2 separate regions of the Homo sapiens genome follow, and region 1 is linked to region 2. Evidence: fine-mapped expression QTL. Tissue or cell type: whole blood. Region 2 holds a variant in brackets; the other region holds the start of a gene. All regions are shown on one strand. Distances are between the middles of the regions.

Region 1 (5,382 bases), 32 kb after region 2:
TTGTAAAATATTTTTCCCCTTAAACTTCAGAAAACAACAAAAAATAACAAATTTCAGGCCACTACAGGAAAATACATGGATTAGTCTAAAAAACTTGGAAGGCTTAGTATCCTTTAAGTTTTATTAAGCCCCTTTTCATTTTACTTACTGTTGGTGTTTTCACTCTGAGGATTCTGAAAATTAAAATAGCAATGGGAAATGGTGATAGTGGTAGAGAAGAGGTTTAAAAAAGCAAATCTCAACTAGTCAAATGAAATCATTCAAAATGTGAAAAGATTCATAATAGGCTGAACATGTTGGAACACCTTACCAATTGAGGAAAAAGAGAACACATTTCAAAGAATGGTAAACTTAATTCCGACATGCAGATTTAAAAATGTTGTTGGGGATACTAAGTATAAGGAAAGTGCCATGACCCAAGGGTGCACTCAATGACAACATCACCCCCATTCAAGAGACCTCTTTTTAGCTTACAGAAATATCAGACATGTTAGGGCTTATATTCTAAAATTACACAGGCCCAATTACCTTGGGGGTTGGCTGTCACTTTATATTCTCTGAGTAGAGCTGCTGACAAGGAAAGCCAGGAGAAAAAGAAAGTCACCTCGGCACCCACAATTCAGAGAGCATTTGGGGTCACACCTGTAATCCCAGCACTTTGGGAGGCCGAGGTGGGTGGGTCACTTGAGGTCAGGAGTTTCAGACCAGCCTGGCCAACATGGTGAAACCCCGCCACCACTAAAAATATAAAAATTAGCTGGGCGTGGTGGCGGGCCCCTGTAGTCCCCGCTACTCGGGAGGCTGAGGCAGGAGAATCACTTGAACCCAGGAGGTGGAGGTTGCAGTGAGCCGAGATCGCACTACTGCACTCCAGCCTGGGCGACAGAGTGAGACTCCGTCTCAAAACAAAACAAAGAAACAAAACAAAGAGCATTTGGGGTTCTCAGGAGGTGTAGCCTGTACACATAGAGGGTACTGGAATTGTTTAAAAAATTACACTGCAGTTTGACTTCTTTTCCATCCTCACTCCTACACCTAGGTTTAGGGGACAGAACCATCTGATAAAGATAAATCTGTTTTAAGATTTCTGGGGTGTTCTGCAAAGACTACTATATCATTTGCAAATAGGTTGTCTTTTAATAAAAATCATGCTACGTAATGTCTTCTTAATATACGCTGAACAAATTGCCTGTTTTAATTTGGCTATATATCTACAATTTAAAATGTTCATACTGTTATCTTTTACCAGTGGAGTGTTTTTTTGTTTGTTTGTTTGAAGTCTTTAGGCGAAGTGAATTTATTCAAGGAAGTTCACATGTCGGTTTTGTTCTTTTAGAGGGGTGTCTTTTTGACCACAAAGAAAAAAAAAGTTTTCCACAAATGTCATCTAACTAAAGGCAATCTATGGACTTTAGGAAGTCAGTTGAGCACACAGATTAATGAGCCAATACTGAGCCTCCTCCCTTCTGACCTCTCAGCACCTGCTCAACTAAGCTCAGGGGAAACTCTTGAGTCTTCTTCTTAAATTGGTAACGCTTGCCCTTTCTTTCTCAAACAAATCAACGCCCAACACCACCACCAAATTATAGGCAACCAACGCGTATCCAACAGCATAAAATAGTTCCCAAGAGCATAAAATAGTTCCCAACAGCGCCAGCGCAGGGGGCAAAACAGAGCGACCAAATGGGGGCACCCTCAGGGGAGTTGCGCTCATCTGGAGCGAGACGCCAGCCTGGGAAAGCGGAACCCCTTTCCCGCCCCGCCCCGAGGACTCACGCTCAGGTGCAACGCCGAGACTCCCGGGGGAAAGAGAGGTGACCGTCTCGGCGCGACCGCCCACACCTCTTGCTCCAAATGACCCCAGCACACAGGAGAGGTCCTCTCAGCGTGGGACTCCGTCTCTCCCGAAGGCAGGGAGCACAACGAAGCGGCCACTCGTCTCTGCAGCCGCGCTACCGGCCCGCAGCCTGGCTCGCAGGTGAGGCGTGAACAGGTAACCGCACCTGTTCGGCCAGCCCCACCTGCTGCGTCCCCGTATCCGGTCCTCCTCCTCCACCACCTCGGTCGGCGCGGCTCGCCCTCCTGGAACCGGGGTGTCACGCTCCGACCTACCTGCGCGACTCCAGCCCCGGACGCCCGCGCTCCCCGCGGCGTGCTCCTGGGCCGCTCCGGGCGGGCAGGCTGCGGCCCCGCGCCCGCACTTTCCCGGCTGCCGGAGGCTGCGGGCTCAGCGGGAAGCCCCGGCGCTGTCCGGCTCGCCGCCTCCGACCGGCTCCATTGTGACGCGACGCGTTCCGCTGGCCAATGGGCGCTCGGCGGCGCGAACCGCTGACTAAGTTCGCGGGTGGAGGAGGAGGGGACGGGGCGGAGGCAGGGCGCGGAGGCGGCTACCACGGTGGTGGCGGTAGCAGTGGCGGAGGAGGAGGAGGAGGAGGAAGAGGAGGAAGAGGCTGCAGTCGCTTCGGTAGCTGCTCCTGCTGTGAATTTTTCAGCTGCCTGGGCCTGAGTGTTTGCCCAGCTCTGGGGCTGCGGGAGCCAGTGACTCACCTATCACTGCTGGAAACAAAGCGCAGCTGCCATCTCCCCGAGCGCGCCATGTGGCCATCGCTGCCCCCTCGCCCAGCCTGGGGTCCGCAGGAGGTAGCGCACAGCCATACGCCCCGCGGAGCAGCTGGAAAGAGCGGGGACTGCTTTCCAGAAGCGGGAGGGAAATGGGCTTCGGCGTGTCCCCCAGGCGCGCCACACCGGTGACTTCGGCACTACACCGCGTGTGTCGGGCCCCAGCCTTCTCACGTGTGCGTCCCTGAGTAACTTGGCATTTATATAACGCGTGTTGGGCCCTGAGGGAAAGGTCGGGTGCAGCACGCGGGAACCTCCTCTTCGAAAAGGAAGTCCCCTTACTTTTCTTTACCCTGCTTAGAAAGATTGCAGGGCCCAGCCTCTGTGAGGGAGGGTTTACAGTTGTACCAACTAAGCGGCTTAAGTTCGATTCTGGCCTTCCAATACCATTGGCTTCTCTCAAATGTCGTTATCCTCAGGATAGGGAGGGGACCACATGGCCGAGGGGCGGTCCCTATACTCATAACCTGCCTTTCACTGCGATTCAACTGCAGAGACACCTCAACTACTGCCCGCTTGCTTCTCTCCCAAGTGGCACTGCATTTGAAGGCCAACAATATTCCTTACGAAACAGAATTAATCCAAACCCACAAATTCTAGGGACATAAATATTTTTATCATCCTCATCCATTTCCCCACTCTCACCCTTACCCCAGTTTTAACTCAGTCTCTGCCCTGGCTATTATCTTGAGCACACTGATTCAATTAGGCAAGATTTATGTCTTTTAGTTGCTATGGTGGTCACATCTCCATTTAAAAAAAGAAAGAAAAAACAAGTTTGTACCGGCATCTCCCAAAGGAATAAAATGAAGACGAACAGACTCAGCATTTGGGGCATCTGAGCAGTTTGTGTAAATGGGAGTATAGCAAATGCCCTATCGAGTTAATATGAGACAAGAGTTGTGTCTCAGACTGTTCAGATGAGGACTACAATTTGAGTCACCCTGAAAGGGAAAAAGAAGGCTGTCTTTGTGTCACTGATCTGTTCTTTTCTTGTTCACTCAGTCCATTCTGGAACTGCAGATATCTTTTTTCTGAGTCTTGAAGGAAAAGCTGAAAGAACATTTCTTCACTTGGTCATTCGATAAATTTTTATTGAGTTTATATGTGTGAGACACTGGGTATGCACAGATCTACAAGTCTAATTTAAATTTAGGTTTGATCCTTACAGGAGTATCTGAAATTCTCTCAGGGACTTTCTGATTAATTATTTTTGGTAGAAGAAAATTCTAAAAGACTCTGTCACTACTTTCACAGCCAGATTTACCCAAGTCTAAAATAGTGATTAAAAATTCCATCATGGATTTTAAGCACCAAAAAAATGACAGGCAGGTCTCAATCGTTTTAGAGGTTTATTTTGCCAAGGTTAAGGACATTCCCCAGGAGAAAGCACAAATACAGGAACATCTGTGATCTGTGCCTTTTGCAAAGAGAGTTTTTGAGGACTTCAGTATTTAAAGGGGAAAGAGCCAGCAGGAGGGGAAGGAGAAAAGAAAGAAAAAAAAGGGAAATGGGAAGGTAGGCAATGAGGGAAGAAGTTACATTCTTGTGAGGCTTTGATTAGTGCCCAGTGAATTCACATTTTGCGTGTGAAGAGTGGGTAGAGGAATACTGATTATGTGTTCCTCTCATGCTCAGTAAATCTACATTTTACATAAGATAAATGTGAAAATAGGGGGAAAGTCAATTATGAATTTGTCTTGGGGTGGGCAGAGGGATGATTTCCAAGTCTTGTCCTTATACCATACATATGAAGATGAGCTGTTATTGTCAGAGTGAGATTCAACAGAACTGTGTTTTAGGGCTCATTTATAGGAGGGATATGCATTCTGAAAGATTTAGGGACCCACAAGGCATTTCACTGTAAGCAATTTGTGAGGGAGGCTATCTGGGGAGATATGTGGCCTTCTATTGTTGCAGCTACCTGGTAACAACAGAAGGCAGGTTTTTAAAATTTTTTTATTTTTTATTTTATTATACTTTAAGTTTTAGGGTACATGTGCACAACGTGCAGGTTAGTTATTTATGTATACATGTGCCATGTTGGTGTGCTGCACCCAGTAACTCGTCATTTAACATTAGATATATCTCCAAATGCTATCTCTTCCCCCTCCCCCCACCCCACAACAGGCCGTGGTGTGCGATGTTCCCTTTCCTGTGTCTGTGTGTTCTCATTGTTCAAGTCCCACCTATGAGTGAGAACATGCGGTGTTTGGTTTTTTGTCCTTGCTATAGTTTGCTGAGAGTGATGGTTTCCAGCTTCATCCATGTCCCTACAAAGGACATGAACTCATCCTTTTTATGGCTGCATAGTATTCCATCGTGTATATGTGCCACATTGTTGGACATTTGGGTTGGTTCCAAGTCTTTGCTATTGTGAATAGTGCTGCAATAAACATACGTGTGCATGTGTCTTTATAGCGGCATGATTTATAATCCTTTGGGTATATACCCAGTAATGGGATGGCTGGGTCAAATGGTATTTCTAGTTCTAGATCCCTGAGGAATCGCCACACTGACTTCCACAATGGTTGAACTAGTTTACAGTCCCACCAACAGTGTATAAGTGTTCCTGTTTCTCCACATCCTCTCCAGCACTTGTTGTTTCCTGACTTTTTAATGATCGCCATTCTAACTGGTGTGAGATGGTATCTCATTGTGGTTTTGATTTGCATTTCTCTCATGGCCAGTGATGATGAGCATTTTTTCATGTGTCTTTTGGCTGCATAAATGTCTTCTTTTGAGAAGTGTCTGTTCATGTCC
Region 2 (5,382 bases):
AACTGAAGATAAAAAGGTATTAGGACCATGGAAGGTTCCTAATACTAGCTTATCCCTTAAGCATTGGGGTTCAGTCTTGGGCCTGTAGCTTCTCTACTCACACATATGCTATGCTCGGGTGACATCCTGAGCATTATGCTTAAGGTTTCATCCGCCACCTCTGTGTATATGGTGAGCCCAGCTCCCTAACCCCAAGCTGCAGAATCATCTCCCCAACATCTTCCTGGCTATATACCGAGATGTGTGGAAGCAACTCAAACAGCATGTCCCAAACTGCATCTACCGTTTCCTCCCACACCTAGATATCATACCTGTCCTTCCTTGATCCCCGAATCTCAGGTTGATAGCAACATCAAGGGCTAAGGCATTGACTGCTATGGTTTGGATGTTTGTGTCCTCTTCAGAATTCATGTTGAAGCTTAATCCTCAGTGCAACAATATTAAGAAATGGAGCATTTAGGAGGTGATTAGGCTATGAGGACTCTGCCCTCAATGATGGGATTTAGTGCCTTATAAAAGGGCTTGAAGGGGTAAGTTCTCTCCTTCCGTCCCTGTTGCTTTTCTACTCCTACACCATGTTCAACGTCCAGAAATCAAATCTGTAGTATCTTGATCTTGGACCTTCCAGTCTCCAGAGCTGTGAGGAATACATTTACGTTACTTATAAATTACCCAGTTTTAGGTGTTTTGTTACAGCAGCACAAACAGACTAAGGCAGGCACCTAACCCAGAAACTTTCTCTTCCTCTATTCCCTCAAATCCAATGGTCTCTTAAACTAGCCCCTTCTACAATCTTGCTACCACTGTCTTGGATGGGGCCCATGTCATCTTTGGGCTGGACGACTCTGAAATTGCCTCCTTTCTTGCCCTCCTTAGTCCCATTTCCATACTGCAGTCAGAGAGCTCTTTCTAAAACATGTCACCTCTTGACTTGTTGCTTTGTTATTATAAAGACAAAGTGATGTCTCAGGGAGGGTTGGGGAGGCTTGCCAATGGGAAGTGAGGGGAAAGAGTGGTGATCTCCAGCTTCTCTTGCTTTCTGTTTTATTGGCTCTTGCTGTTTCCTTCCCAGGAGTGCTAAGTTTGACCCCAAAATGCAGGGCAGACTGGATTATGAATTCTGTGATCACAGTGATCACTGATCACTTGACAACAGTGCAAACATGACAACAGGATGCTTCACCCTGTGACTCGCTGTGGGCACTCACTCAGCCTCACAGTTAGCTATGGCCACCTCTTGCTTTATCATGCTGCCTGTCTCATGGATTCCAATCAGTTTGGAACCCTGCTGTGATGGCAAGGGATTTTTTTTTAAGTCTCTGGCTTTATTTCTATCTATACTTCACTGGTGTCTATGCTTACAGATACTAGGCATTTTTACAGAAGTTTTCTTGACTTACTGGTCAGCAGCAGTCACTGCTGTGAGAGTCAACCCTGCACATGTTAGAGTAATTGCTCTACTTGCTGATCTGTTACTGTGTAAATGTTCTAGAGCTGTTTTAGGTAAGTATAAATTTCCTAATTTCAATGTTCCCCAAGCCGTAGCAGGGGAACACACAACATAAAAACACATAAATAAAAATTAGGAAAAACATATAAATAAAAATTAGGAAACTTTTATGTATCTGCTGCTGACTGAGTACAGTCTCATTTTGTTTCTCCGCTCCTCGCACTAGTGAGAGTGAGAAGCAGGGGCTGGTTTTCCATGGCAGCAGTGTGGAAAATGAACACTGGACTGAGTCCCAGGCCTGCCTCCACCATCATCTGCATGGGCTTAAATCACTCACTAAATACAGGCCTCCATCTCCTCAGCTTTAAAATACAGATAATCACACTGGCTCAAGAATTGATATTAGTGGTAAAATAAATATCATGGAAGCACTCTGAAATCATTGCAGTAGCAAACAGATGCAAAAGAGAACTCTTATAAAGAAACCTAATTCTTTTACTAGCAAAGTGATTTAAAAAGAGGATGCTTTTGGCCTTGGGATGGTATCTTTGAAAAAAACAACCCAGGAAGTGAGCTTTATTTATGCCACTGTGGTTCCAGGGAAACAAAATAGCAAGTGTTGCAAAGACATTGACATTTCATCATATTTGGGTCCTA[C/T]TGTGAAGTCAAAAAGAACGCTTCAAAAAAGGCATTGAGGCCCAGGGGTTCAGAAGAACTATGTGGCCCAAACATAGAATGTCACTCATTTGTTTCACTGTGACAAAACAACCATCTCAGTAGAAAATTCTTCTCCAAATCTGCCTTGCAATAATGGAATGATAATGGATCCCTTAATGTCTGTCAACTGGGGATTTGGAAAAAGACAAAAACAGAATGCGCACAATCTCTGGCTCACTGTGCCAATGGAGTGCACACGCCTAACTGCCCAACCCAGAGAAGGCTTTTTAAAAGATTCCAGTCAGCCAACACTGCTTATCTGTTCCAGCTCCTATTTTCCATGGAGGAAGGTGTGGGGAATGAAGCATTGGGCAAGAGCATTCAGAAAGAAACCAGTCTGTTTTGAAAGAGCAAGCTCTTATGTCACTTATGATTCAGGTAAAATGTCCATTTTTACCTTGGTGTTAAATTAATGCTTCATATTTGTAACTTGGTTAATGGCTGCTGGTAGTCAAAATCACTGGTTGCCATTTGCTCCTCAGCTGGAGAGGGAGAATGTCTGGTTTACATTTAGGGTAAATGCAGAGTGAGATGTCTTTTTTTCTGATATCACTCCCTGTAACACCAACTGGGTGTCCTAAAATTCAATCCTATTCTGACATTAACTACTCAGAGTTAGCATCAGACTCCACAGGTTTAAGGGCTCCATTCTACAAGACTGCCTCTGCTTCAAACTCAATCACAAGTCCCAGGAATCCAGGCTGCCTGTACTTCTGTTTGACTTGACTATAAATTTGGGGGTTCCCATAACGCTCTCTTCAAATTTGATAATTTACTAGAGTAACTCATAGAACTCAGGAAAACACTTTACTTACCTTTATTGATTTATTATAAAGGATACAACTCAGGAACAGCCAAATGGAAGAGATGTAAAAGGCAAGGTATTTGAGGGCAGTGGGAGGATGGAGCTTCTCTGCTCTTTCCAACCTCACCACCCTCCCAGCACTTCGATGTGTTCACCAACCTGGAAGCTACCTGAACTCCATTGTTTAGGGGTTTTTATGAAAATTTCATTATGTAGGCATCATTGATTAAATAACATTGGCCGTTAGTGACTGAAAATCTCCAGTCCCTCTCCCCTTTCCAGAAGTTGATGGTGGGCGTAAAAGTTCCAATGCTGGAATCACATGGTTAGATCCTCTGGTGACCAGGCCCCATCCTGAAGCTACCCAGGTGCCTACAGTGAGTTACCACATTAGAACAAACTTAGGTATGGTTAACAGGGGCTCGCTATGAATAACAAAGGACACTCTTATCAGGAATGGGGCTCTGTGATGTGACATGGGGGCAAAGGCCAAATATGACTTTATTACACACATAACATGATGCTGTATAAGAAAAGTCTCACAGGAGAGCGAATTCTTATTCCAACTGGCTGATGCAATTTCAAACAGTGCCAGATAGTTCACTTAAAAGGTCAAGCTTGCTTTCAAGGCCAAAACAAGGCAGTCGTTTAAGTCACTGATGCCCTGAGTCAATGACTAAGAAAGTTATTTCCTAAGGGACACCTCCTTGACATGATGACAGGTCACTTCACAACATGCTCCTGTAGTTCTCTATCCCTTCCATTCATAACATTTATCACAAACCTATAAGTAATTGTTTGATTAAAGGTTTATTTCTCTCTGAGGTCTGGTCTACATGTATCATGCTTATCAATGCACCCCAGGGCTTAGCTTGTAGAAGCTGCTACTAAATATTAATTGAACAGATACAAGAGTTTTAATTAGACCTCCTTGTTTGGAAGCAAAAACTGCAAAAATATCTTACAATCTTCATACCTTCTTACCTTCAATTTACATCCCAAATTCTACATGACATGAAAGGCTTCCTGAATCCTTTAGCAGAGACTAAAGACTCCATTTGAGCCCCATCAGCAGAGAAGACGAATTTAGCTCAGCCATAGCATTCAGAATAAGTTAGGGCAGCTCTGGGCACTCTGAAGTGATAGAGTAAGGTTCTTCTAAAATAACGCACAAATAACTAATATGAATCACATAGAATGCCTACATTCCAAAAAAGGTGACAGGTCATTTCTCCACATTAGGCTGGCTTCGGGCTTCATAACTCAGCAGGATTCTGCAGCTTCACTTGGTCTTAGCAAAGAGGAGAAACATGGGCCCTCTGGAAACAGAGTTTCAATGGTTTTCCAGGAGACAAAAGATATACTCCCCATCTGGAAGTTTGACACATGACTTCTAAATCAGGGTGGGGCTCTGTCATAGCTGAGTGACAAAATCAGCTGCACAACACACAGAGTCTCTAAGTTTCTCCTTTATACACAGCAGATGAATCTATGGTTATTTCTTAGCAACCAAATTTGAAGGGCAAAAAGACTGTGCCAAGAAAACTACAAGTGTAGTTTTTTTCCTGTCTTTTCTCTCTCATCCATGCACAAAAAATAATATTTACCTATTTATATTTGACAATACCATCTGTTTTTATTGTGTGGAGAGTCTTATCCATTTAAGGAAGGCAACAACTTTGTGACTCTCAGTTGAAGAAAGGTAGAAATGAAGAAGGCCTTATGTAACACCAACTTGTGTCACCAACAGCAAGTGGAAATATTACATCTTGCACATGCTCTGACACTAGGTGTACTCGACAATCATGATGAAGTTTCTGCTGGGTGCAAAGAACTGGCCCAGGTAATGAAGGCAATCGAAAGGTGTCACACTCAGACCTAAATCTCAAAAGGAGCTTATGCATTGGTGAAAGAAGGCATAAGTACAAGAAAGATCAAACAAATGAATTATACAGTTACATCTTAAAGTAATACATGCTAGAAGAACAATAGTCACTGTACAGGGTTTATGAGTTGGACCAAGAAAGATGCGTAAGATTTATATAGTTAGGGGGTGAAGGAATAAGGGGTAAAAGGGGTTGGTTAATAACAGGGCACATAATATTTTATGTGGAGGAATGGAACAACAAATAAAGAAGGCAAAAGAAAGCCAAGGTCAATTTAATGAATTAGTGAGCAGATGCATAGATGGAGTGGAATTTATGAGACAGAAATGATGGGGCTAAGAGTAGAAAGGTGATTAGGATCAAATGCTAATTAAGTCTCAAATTCCACACTAAAAAATTTTCAAGATTTAACTCAGGCCCAGAACATAACAGGCACCTGAGAAATTATTGCTTTAGGGGGTAAATATGTCACTTTTAGAATATTCAAATCTTTTTACAAGGAGAGAGGAATTTAGGCTTGATAT

Alleles and levels. Positions count from the first base shown, and alleles are read on the strand shown. Sizes are in standard deviations (SD) of each study's normalised expression.
As copies of C replace T in region 2, the expression in whole blood of the gene that starts at base 2,306 in region 1 goes down (moderate effect, 0.69 SD a copy in GTEx).

The links.
Region 1: it holds the start of LRRC8B, and the variant in region 2 is fine-mapped to the expression of LRRC8B in whole blood (TOPMed, PIP above 0.99). The same link has a PIP of 0.9 or more in blood mononuclear cells and monocytes.

Annotation. Positions count from the first base shown.
Region 1 is chr1:89,521,753-89,527,134 of GRCh38, reverse strand. LRRC8B (leucine rich repeat containing 8 VRAC subunit B) reads right to left here and starts at 2,306. Exons shown (of 6, transcript NM_001369817.2): 1 at 2,113-2,306. RefSeq lists enhancers at 278-779, 780-1,281 and a silencer at 1,983-2,442.
Region 2 is chr1:89,553,966-89,559,347 of GRCh38, reverse strand. The region is part of intron 1 of LRRC8B (leucine rich repeat containing 8 VRAC subunit B); the gene reads right to left. Among named protein-coding and RNA genes, the nearest start is that of LRRC8B, 32 kb to the right of the region's middle. The variant C/T (reference allele first, on the strand shown) is at 2,108.